Linked DNA regions of Homo sapiens: all the other regions are linked to region 1. Evidence: fine-mapped expression QTL. A gene starts in region 1. Each other region holds a variant in brackets. All regions are shown on one strand. Distances are from middle to middle.

The links. PIP is the estimated chance that this variant, and not a neighbour inherited with it, causes the effect.
Region 2: its variant is the best candidate, but not a certain one, in a credible set for the expression of HSPA6 in whole blood (INTERVAL, PIP 0.68).
Region 3: its variant is the best candidate, but not a certain one, in a credible set for the expression of HSPA6 in monocytes after interferon gamma (Fairfax 2014, PIP 0.58).
Region 4: its variant is the best candidate, but not a certain one, in a credible set for the expression of HSPA6 in neutrophils (BLUEPRINT, PIP 0.57).

Annotation. Positions count from the first base shown.
Region 1 is chr1:161,523,030-161,525,529 of GRCh38, reverse strand. HSPA6 (heat shock protein family A (Hsp70) member 6) reads right to left here and starts at 990. Exons shown (of 1, transcript NM_002155.5): 1 at 1-990. The coding sequence starts at 871. TRG-GCC2-1 (tRNA-Gly (anticodon GCC) 2-1) reads left to right here and starts at 1,613; the gene lies at 1,613-1,683. It also overlaps a transcript of FCGR2A not described here and the pseudogene TRD-GTC10-1.
Region 2 is chr1:161,558,667-161,561,425 of GRCh38, reverse strand. No RefSeq gene overlaps it. Among named protein-coding and RNA genes, the nearest start is that of FCGR3A, 10 kb to the right of the region's middle. The variant A/T (reference allele first, on the strand shown) is at 1,559.
Region 3 is chr1:161,638,430-161,641,040 of GRCh38, reverse strand. No RefSeq gene overlaps it. Among named protein-coding and RNA genes, the nearest start is that of FCGR3B, 8.6 kb to the right of the region's middle. RefSeq lists a silencer at 2,491-2,611. The variant A/C (reference allele first, on the strand shown) is at 1,074.
Region 4 is chr1:161,591,025-161,593,783 of GRCh38, reverse strand. It overlaps the pseudogene FCGR2C. Among named protein-coding and RNA genes, the nearest start is that of TRL-CAA6-1, 20 kb to the left of the region's middle. RefSeq lists a silencer at 869-1,075. The variant G/A (reference allele first, on the strand shown) is at 1,461.

The DNA of each region.
Region 1 (2,500 bases):
CGAACAGGGAGTCTATCTCCAGGGTGGCCTGGGTGCTGGAGGACAGGGTGCGCTTGGCGCGCTCACAGGCTGTGCGCAGCCTGCGCAGGGCACGCTTGTTCCCGCTCAGGTCCTTCCCATGCTTCCGCCGGAATTCTTCCATGAAGTGGTTCACGAGCCGGTTGTCGAAGTCCTCTCCTCCCAGGTGGGTATCTCCAGCAGTGGCTTTCACCTCAAAGACACCAGCGTCAATGGAGAGAACCGACACATCGAAGGTGCCCCCACCCAGGTCAAAAATGAGCACGTTGCGCTCTCCCGCGCCCCGCCGGTCCAGCCCATAGGCGATGGCAGCTGCCGTGGGCTCATTGATGATCCGCAACACGTTGAGCCCCGCGATGGCCCCCGCGTCCTTGGTGGCCTGGCGCTGCGAGTCATTGAAATAGGCGGGCACGGTGATCACTGCGTGCTTCACGGGCTGGCCCAGGTACGCCTCGGCCGTCTCCTTCATCTTGCTCAGCACCATGGACGAGATCTCCTCGGGGTAGAACGTCTTGTCCTCCCCGCGGTAGCATACGCGCACCTTGGGCTTGCCGCCCTCGCTCACCACCCGGAAGGGCCAGTGCTTCATGTCCGACTGCACCGTGGTGTCCGCGAACTTGCGCCCGATCAGCCGCTTGGCATCGAACACGGTGTTGTGGGGGTTCAGGGCCGCCTGGCTCTTGGCCGCGTCCCCGACCAGCCGCTCGGTGTCGGTGAAGGCCACGTAGCTGGGCGTGGTGCGGTTGCCCTGGTCGTTGGCCAGGATCTCCACGCGGCCCTGCTGAAACACGCCCACGCACGAGTAGGTGGTGCCCAGGTCGATGCCCACCGCGAGCTCCCGTGGGGCCTGCATGGCTGAAGCTTCTTGTCGGATGCTGGAGGCCACGGAGGCTGCTGCCGCTCCGCCGTCGAGGGGCGCTCAGCAGTGAGGCTCTCCCTGCGGTTTCTCTGCAGCCAGCCCGGCTCGGATCTGCTCAGCTCCGCTTCCACCGGCTTTTTATCCTTTTGCGCCTCACCCGACCCCCGCCGCCGCGAACTTTCGCGAACCTTTCCGCACCTTCCCGCACCTTCCCGCCCAGTTGAGAGCCTCTCGCCCGCCCGGGCTGACTCAGCCGGGTGGCGCGGCGCGGCGCTGACCCCGGGAGAAGGTTCGGGCAGATCGGGGCATGAGCCGCGAGGCTGGGCGGCTACGCCAGGCCAGCCCGCCTCTGACTCAGGCTGCTGAAAGAAATGCGGGGAAGGTTCTAGCTCCTCCGGGCTGGCTCTGAGGACGCGCGGTTGTGGCAGAGGCTGCAAAAGCAGCAACTTTAGAGGCAAGGTCTCCCCGGGGCTGTGGGAGGTCGGATCCCTGAGGCACACAGGGGCCTGCGGGCTGCCTTGGAGGGCCGCTGAGAGCCCAGCGGCTCAGGAAGGCCGAAGATATGTTACCATGCGAATACAGATATATAAGATATATACACGTATATCTTAAAACAGTTTTATCTTGAACAAAATATTTTCCAAACCGCGATTTAAGACGGTGCCTGGTTCCTTAGTGAATGGCCAGAGATAGTGAGCTTTAAGAGACAATACTGCAGGTCTTTAGCTGACAGTAGCATTGGTGGTTCAGTGGTAGAATTCTCGCCTGCCACGCGGGAGGCCCGGGTTCGATTCCCGGCCAATGCACTTTCATTTTTTTCCGATCCATTTCAATTCTTTTTCTCATCTAGGATTAATCACTCTTGAATAAATTAAACCAGGTGGCTGAAGACTTTACATTCCTCCAGTTTTGTTCTCTCTCCTTTACCAGTCACTTTCCACAAAGGAGATGTGACATTGCACTGTGGCCCTGGGACTCGGGAGAGACCTCGCCACTCAGCCCAAGAGAGAACGCAACACCTGGGAAAGGAGGACGCAGAGTACGGTCGGGATGTCCCTCATGTTCTCCCCACTGTTTGTATCCCCGAGGAGCCTCGTCTCCAGAGGCCCGGTGGAGAGGCACAGTGTGCGTTTTTCTTTATGGCCTAAGTGGGTTCCCAGCTGGAGACCAGGACTCAGGTGGAGAGTAAACTACTGCAGGCTCCAGTCCAACCTACCTCCTAAAGGCTGGAGGACGAGATGGGTTCACTGGGCAGTAAAGTCACACTGGTTTTTATCAGGTTGTGACTTTGTGAATTGAGGCCATTTCCCACTTTCTTCAATCCAGAACATTCCATTCAGATCTGCTGGCGTTCGGATTTCCGCTGAAAGCCAAAACAAGGAGACATTTCTGAGACTTCTGAAGGTTGACAAAATCCTCACACAATTTCCCGTGACCTCCCCGTCGGGGAATCGACCCCCTCTCTCACGCATGACAGGCAGAGATACTCACCACTATAGTAACAAGGATGGCAACTGCAATAGCTGGCAGCTGGAGAGTATGTGGTACAGTCTGGTGTTACAATTTAGCAGTGTGTTAGAGAAACTTAAAAGTTGGCTTCTATTTAACGTTACTTGCCTGATT
Region 2 (2,759 bases), 36 kb before region 1:
ACACATCGCCATCACTCTCTTTTTGAAACTTTAAAAACTTGCAAGTCTGGGAGGCATCTAAGCATGTTCTGATGTGAGATAGCACAAGGCAGGGCATTTAAAACTCACTCTTGGCTATAGCATAAAATTTTAGAAAGTTCTTGTATGTCAACAGGTCATATTATTTTAATAACCACAGCCAAAGAAAACAGGTGCAGCTTAAGGTCATCCCACAAAATCTGCTTCAATCCCATGTGCTTTTTTTCCCTTGTTGTCTGTCTATCTCTTCCTGGTTTTGTGAAAGTGTTCTCTCCTTGTCCCATGACTGCCTTTGTATGATGTATCTCGAGGTGTGTCTGTTTCCAGACCTCTCAGTAGATGCCTTGCTCTTCATGCATTTTCTATCTATTTTTAAGACACCATATTTGAAAACCTGGGTGTCTCTCTCAGTTTTTTGTGGGTTTTTGTTTTGTTTTGTTTTTTACTGTCCCAGTAACTGTGTCTTTCTGAGTTTTCTCTCACTGGTTTTCCTCTAAGTCCCATCCCATTTTGTGTCTTTATGTCTCTAACTCTGCCTGTTCTCCTCCCTTTTCTTTTATATTGACAGTTTCCTTTCCTATTTCTTTTCTTCACTTTACTAGACACATAATGGTGAATATTTTGTTTTGTTTTGTTTTGAGACGGGGTATCGCTCTGTTGCCCAGGCTGGAGTGCAGTTGCACGATCACAGTTCACTGCAACCTCCACTTCCCAGGCTCAAGTGATCCTCCCGCCTCAGCCTCCCAAGTAGCTGGGACCACAGGCATGTAGCCCCAGGCCTGGCTTATTTTGAATTTTTTTAAGAGATGGGGTTTTGCCAGGTTGCCCAGACTGGTGTTGAACTCCTGGCCTCAAGCAATGCTCCTGCCTCAGCCTCCCAATGTGCTGGGATTACAGGTATGAGCCACCATGCTGGGACCATGAATATTTTTTATTAAATAATTTTGATATCTATTGTATTTAAAGCTCAGAGCTTACTATATTTTGTTATTAATATTAAAATAAGCAAGTAGAAGCCAGGCAGTAGTGCTGGCTACTCAGGAGGCTGAGGCAGAAGGACTGCTTGAGTCCAGGAGTTTTTTAATCCAGCCTGGCTGACACAGTGAGACCTCATCTCTAAAAAAGAAAGCAAGCAGAATATTTTCTTAAAAGGCAATTATATTCCTTCTTGGCCAGGCCCAGTGGCTCACACCTGTAATCCCAGCACTTTGGGAGGCCGAGATGGGTGGATCACCTGAGGTCAGGAGTTCGAGACCAGCCTGGCCAACATGGCGAAAACCCGTGTCTACTAAAAATACAAAAATTAGCTGGGCATGGGGGCATATGCCTGTAATCCCAGCTACTTGGGAGGCTGAGACAGGAGAATCGCTTGTACCCGGGAGGCAGAGATTGCAGTGAGCCGAGATCATGCCACTGCACTCCAGCCTTGGCGACAGAGTGAGGCTTTGTCTAAAAAAAAAAAGGTATTTTTTGCCTCTCTGTTGGTACCAATTGTTAAATTCTTTGTGGACCACTGATGCTTACCAAAAAAAAAAAAAAA[A/T]AAAGTGGGGGCATCATATTTCCTCTAGTTGACATTAAGACACAGTAATTTAGCCAGAGGAGATCTTAGCAAACATACAGTCCACACTCCACTTTCTCATTTCATGATTGTAGAGACTGAGATCTAGACAATTTAATCGGTGGTCACCCTGGGTGACATAGCTAGGTCTAGAGCTCCTGGTCTCCAGGTCAGCATTTCTTTCTTCTTCATTAAATGTCAAGTTTCCTCCCCTGTTCATTATTAGCTCCTTCCAGAAAGAGAGTTTCTTATCTTTTTAGTAGGTACTCAGTAAATACCAAGGTATTCACTAGGATGCCTTTGGATGAAGGTAACAAGCCCTGACTTAAATTGGCTTAAACAGCAGGGAAATTTACTTGAAATTGTAAGAAATCTGGGTTGGTTGCGTTAGAAGCTCAGTGATGTCACCAAGACCATATTCTATCCCTCCACTCTGTCCTCCTTGGCTATTTGGCATTGACCTCAGACTGGCTGCCTTCAAAATCTTAGGTTTTGCCAGCAGAACCTAGGACAAAATGAGCCCTTGTTCATGTACAGTGGGAGAGAGAGATCATCTCTCCCAAACATGGCACTCCCCTCTACCAGATTGGCCCTATTTAGGACAAAGTTCCGTCTTCTCCCACTTAACCAATAAAAGCCAGGGGAATGCTACACCCTGAGTGGCTTAGATCAGTCAAGATCCACCTCTGCATATGAGGGTGATTCCTGAATAGAATCAAGGTTATATTAGAAGGGAGGGAGAGGGATGGATATCAGGCTAGTACATCATATTCTATTTGTTGAGTTAACTGAGTCATAGCAATTGTTGAGTTGGAAAAAACTCAGAACCTACTGTGGATTCAAGTTCAAGAAATCATTCTTTCCTACATACAACAGCATTGCTCTGTAGCCCTGAGCTAAGAGAGCATCACGAAATACAGTCTTCTTGCTGTTTATAATCGTAAGCAAACTCTTGGACCTGGGAGGGGATGAATGGATAATGTCTGTCTGACTTGCTTCTTTCTAGTTAGTACCAACTACCTCCCTTCTTCCTGTGATTGTTCTTAGAATAGGATAAAAAATCTTCCCTTCCCTAGATCTTACAGTCTCCCCTTCCCCCAGGCCTTTCTATTTTTCAGGATTTTACTCTAATCACACCACCGAAGAATCAAGAAATCTTTAAAGTGTATTAGAGTAGCTAGTT
Region 3 (2,611 bases), 120 kb before region 1:
CCTGGTCTCCATGTCAGCATTTCTTTCTTCTTCATTAAATGTCAAGTTTCCTCCCCTGTTCATTATTAGCTCCTTCCAGAAAAAGAGTTTCTTATCCTTTTAGTAGGTACTCAGTAAATACCAAGGTATTCACTAGGATGCCTTTGGATGAAGGTAACAAGCCCTGACTTAAATTGGCTTAAACAGCAGGGAAATTTACTTGAAATTGTAAGAAATCTGGGTTGGTTGCGTTAGAAGCTCAGTGATGTCACCAAGACCATATTCTATCCCTCCACTCTGTCCTCCTTGATTTTTTGGCATTGACCTCAGACTGGCTGCCTTCAAAATCTTAGGTTTTGCCAGCAGAACCTAGGACAAAATGAGCCCTTGTTCATGTACAGTGGGAGAGAGAGATCATCTCTCCCAAACATGGCACTCCCCTCTACCAGATTGGCCCTATTTAGGACAAAGTTCCGTCTTCTCCCACTTAACCAATAAAAGCCAGGGGAATGCTACACCCTGAGTGGCTTAGATCAGTCAAGATCCACCTCTGCATATGAGGGTGATTCCTGAATAGAATCAAGGTTATATTAGAAGGGAGGGAGAGGGATGGATATCAGGCTAGTACATCATATTCTATTTGTTGAGTTAACTGAGCATAGCAATTGTTGAGTTGGAAAAAACTCAGAACCTACTGTGGATTCAAGTTCAAGAAATCATTCTTTCCTACATACAACAGCATTGCTCTGTAGCCCTGAGCTAAGAGAGCATCACGAAATACAGTCTTCTTGCTGTTTATAATCGTAAGCAAACTCTTGGACCTGGGAGGGGATGAATGGATAATGTCTGTCTGACTTGCTTCTTTCTAGTTAGTACCAACTACCTCCCTTCTTCCTGTGATTGTTCTTAGAATAGGATAAAAAATTTTCCCTTCCCTAGATCTTACAGTCTCCCCTTCCCCCAGGCCTTTCTATTTTTCAGGATTTTACTCTAATCACACCACCGAAGAATCAAGAAATCTTTAAAGTGTATTAGAGTAGCTAGTTGTGGCAGCACTAAAACACGGCTGCAAATTCTTTGACACTCTCTCCATC[A/C]AGAAATGAGGCCTACATCCTCTACCCTTGAATCTGGGTGGGCTTATAACTTCTGGTGATTAGAATACAGCAGAAAGAGAAGCTGTATAGCTCCTAAATGTTATAAAGTCTTAAGGATAGCTGCCAGCAAGACCTTAGGACAAAATGAGCCCTTGTTCACGTCCAGTGGGAGAGAGAGAGAGAGACCCTCTCTCCCAAATATGGCAATCCTCTCTACCTATAACATTTACATAAATGTTATAGGTTAAACGTTCCACAACAAACTAAGTACTATTTAACATCAAGAGGGAAAAGAGACAGGAGAAAGGGTTAATAAGCCTGTTGATGAGGATCTAAGAAGACCAAAGGAGTCCTGGTCTGGGCCTGGCTACCCGTTGGTCTTGCAAAGAAGAGTCTGAGGTGGCAGAGCCTTCAGTGGCAGATGCCAAATTATCATCATGAGTGACTGCAAGACAGTGTCAGCTAAGATAGCCATTTCAAGCTGCTGAAGGCCTTCTCTTTTAGTCATGGAGTCCTGTGATAAGAACTGAAAGTTGGAAGAGTGTGCTTGTCTGTGGCCTTATTTGGTCGGCTGCAGTCTTTATCATTTTTAATTTGTTTCTTAGAACATTTTATCTTGTTGGCCAAATGCCCTATGAAATATAAAATGGAGTCTTTTTCTAAGATGGAGTTAGTTATGTCAAGGGTCCTTTATACAGTCTTCATCCTTTTTCCTGGCATACAACTCCTAAAATCCTTAGAATCTCCAAAGTGATGTCTTTTGGTGTGCTAATGAGGTAACTGATGGCTGGCAGCTCTTAGGTAGCTTCATAACAGGGGCTGGGCACAAGAAAGATCATGGCAAGGTCAGAGGATTGGGGCTTTCAGCTCCACCCTCCAAACTCCCTCTGGGAAGTGGAGAGGGGCTGAAGGTTGAATTGATCACCAATAGCCAATGATTTAATTAATCATTCCTAAGTAATAAAGCTCCCATAAAAACCCAAAAGGACAGGGTTTGGAGATCCTCCAGAGAGCCGAACACAGAGAGGTTCTTGGAGGGTAGTGCACCAGAGGGCATGGAAGCTCCAAGCCCCTTCCCACAGGTCTTGCCCTATGTACTCTTTACTTGTGTCCTTTGTAATATTCTTTATCACAAACTGATAAATGTAAATGTTTCCCTGAGTACTGAGAGCCACTCTAGCAAATTAATTGAACCCAAGATGCAGGTGGTGGGAACCCCCATTTATAACTGGTTGGTCAAAAGCACAGATAAAACAACCTGGGGCTTCACCCTGCAATATCAGAAGTGTCTTGTGAGACTGAGCCCTTCACTTGTGTCACCTGATGCTATTTCCAGTTAGATAGTGTTGGAATTCAATTGAATTCGAGCAGAAGTCCCAATCCCCAGATTTGTAGTTGTCAGTGACCTCTTAGGAACTGGGCTGCACAGCAGGAAGTGAGGGGCAGGTGGGGAGCAAAGCTTTATCTGTATTTACAGTAGATCCCCATGGCTCACATCACCGCCTGAGCTCCTCCTCCTGTCAGATCAGCTGTGGCAT
Region 4 (2,759 bases), 68 kb before region 1:
CCAAAGTATCTCTGATTTCTTGCTCTGGAAATATCATCAGATTCCTGGTACCAGAAATTCGGACACAGCCCTCTCCTCTGTATCTGGGACTGGTGTTTCTCTTCTCATCTCCAGAGAGGTCATCTTTAGGCCCAGGAGTTAGACTCAGAGCTAACCAAGCGATTTGAGCCCCGGCCATCCTCCCACCGCTGCTCCCTCCCTGGCTCCCAGCTGAACTCGCACAAGCCCCTTCTCGCTGGCTGCAGTCCAGCCGGCAGCCCTGGTGAGCCATCACTGAATCCCTGAGACAACCTGTACTCACCTGGTTTCTCAGGGAGGGTCTCTCCCATTTCCCTGCACTCAGGGTATCCTGAGAGAGCTGGGAGGGGCACACAGGAGGTTAGTAGGATTAGGCGGTGGGGCCTGAGTCCTCAGGACCAAGGACCAGGGCCAGGGTTGGATGGGACCAGCTCAGGCCTTCCCTCTGGCAGATGTTTCCTGTCCTCCCACCCCCAGCTCCCCTGCTCAGGGGCCGCTCCCGCCTGGAAAAGGGCTAGTCCAGAGGCAGAATTCAGCTCACCCATGGGGATGCCCAGGAGTGTCAGAAAGGCCACGCCATGGCATCTGTCTGAGGCTTGCTCTGCCTTTTAAAAACACCCCTGTGTCTCAGTCTCTCTCTCTCTGTTTCTCTGTATTTACTTATCATCAGTAACTGAGGTGTTGGCTATGAACCAATTGAAAAGTGCTTTGTGAGGTGTTAGCGGGATTCTTTCTTTCTTGGTGGCTTGCAGTACCCTCTCTTCTCCCCCTTCGACACCCATATGAGCCCCACCCGGCTTCAATCCCTGCCTTGGCCCAGTGCCTGGAGGGTCCTCCTTCCCTAGCTAAGCGCTGCCCTCACACACCACCTCCTCCAGAATGGCAACAGCCCTGTTTGTGTGCTGTTACTGCCTACCAGGCACTGTGTAAGAGCATCAGCCTCTTTCATCCCCATGGCAACCCTGTGAGGTAAGTCCTGTTAGTGTCCCCATTTTCCACATGAGACAGCTGAGGCACAGAGAGGTGGAGTGACTCACTTGGGTCATATAGTTGGTATGCTGTAGAACTAGATTTGAACCCAGGCAGTCTGGCCCCACTATGTGCACTCCATCACTACACTACACTGCTCTCCCTGAGAACTTCTCCAACTGCGTCAGCCCTTGTTGGGCTATGGAGCCTCCTCTGTACTTCTATCCTAGGCTTTTCATGTCCCTATCATTGCTCTTATCCCATCTTATTATAATGACCCTGTCTTCCTCACAATGCTGAGAACTCCCCAAGGGCAGGGACTGGACTTCTCTTGGCATCACCCACCATGTCTCACGCATTGGCTGACACATAAGCTAGTTTGTTCAAGTCTTGTCAAATGAATGATCTAATAAACGAATGAATGACTATAATACAATACGGGCCTAGATCTGAATGTGTATCTAGCCCAAAGA[G/A]AGGGATTCTGGCAATGTCTGGGGTTAGGGCCTGGGCCAAGTGGAAACTGATAACCAAAGGGACCGGGAGGAGCTACAAACCTGAAATCCGCTTTTTCCTGCAGTAGATCAAGGCCACTACAGCAGCAACAATGGCCGCTACAGCAATCCCAGTGACCACAGCCACAATGATCCCCATCGGTGAAGAGCTGGGAGCTAGGGAAGACAGACATCAGGACAGGCAGTACTCTCCTTGTCCCACCTCCCCCCCATCCAATGCTATGTCCTAGTGCTTGTCACCCGAAGCTCTTCTGTGTCTGAGTCACTCACTTCTGCAGCACTCACTACATCCCCAGCCTCATCTGCACAGGGTTTCTGTGGCTGGACTTATGCCTCCTGCCTACCGAGGTTTCTCCACCGAACTAATAAAGGCACACTGGTGAGCAGGCAGGAGCAGAAGGAAGGGCTCCCCTTAGCCCTCAGGGGCAGTGGGAAGGGTGGGCCCAAAGCCTCGCATAGCTGGAGGCATCATTACTCTATGGAGCACAGCCTTGAACAGTCCATGACGTGCCAGGCTTTCTGGAGTGAATGGCTATAACATGAGCCATGAGAAGAATAAAGGCAAACCTCAGTTCTTACGAATGCCCAGGAGCTTAGGGAACCTCTGCACCAACGAGGGAGCTCTGCTTCGCTGCCGTCCTTAGTCTGGGGCCTGCATTTCAAAGTGGAACAACAGCCTGGTCACCTATCACCTGAGGGCTCCAAGCTCTGGCCCCTACTCCTGCTCATTGGTCAATACTTAGCCAGGCCTCCACACCACTCCTCTTTGCTCCAGTGCCCAATTTTGTGCTGTGGCCTTTCTCAGACCTCCATGTAGGCCCATGTGACCTCAGCCCTTGTCCATCCCCTCTTCTCCCCTCCCTACATCTTGGCAGACTCCTCATACCTTGGACAGTGATGGTCACAGGCTTGGATGAGTACAGCGTGTAGCCTATGTTTCCTGTGCAGTGGTAATCACCACTGTGACTGTGGTTTGCTTGTGGGATGGAGAAGTTGGGATCCGAACGGGAAAATTTCTTGGATTTTCCATTCTGGAAGAATGTGACCTTGACCAGAGGCTTGTCCTTCCAGCTGTGGCACCTCAGCACGATGGTTTCTCCCTCCTGGAACTCCAGGTGAGGGGTCTGGAGCACCAGCCACTCTGAAAGACACAGAAAACCCCAGAGGACCCGGGAGGTCTTGGCTCAGCTCTGAGACCCAGATCTTCCTTACTGGTGGGACATGATGTGCAGAGGGAACAGCTTAGGTCTGAAATCAGAC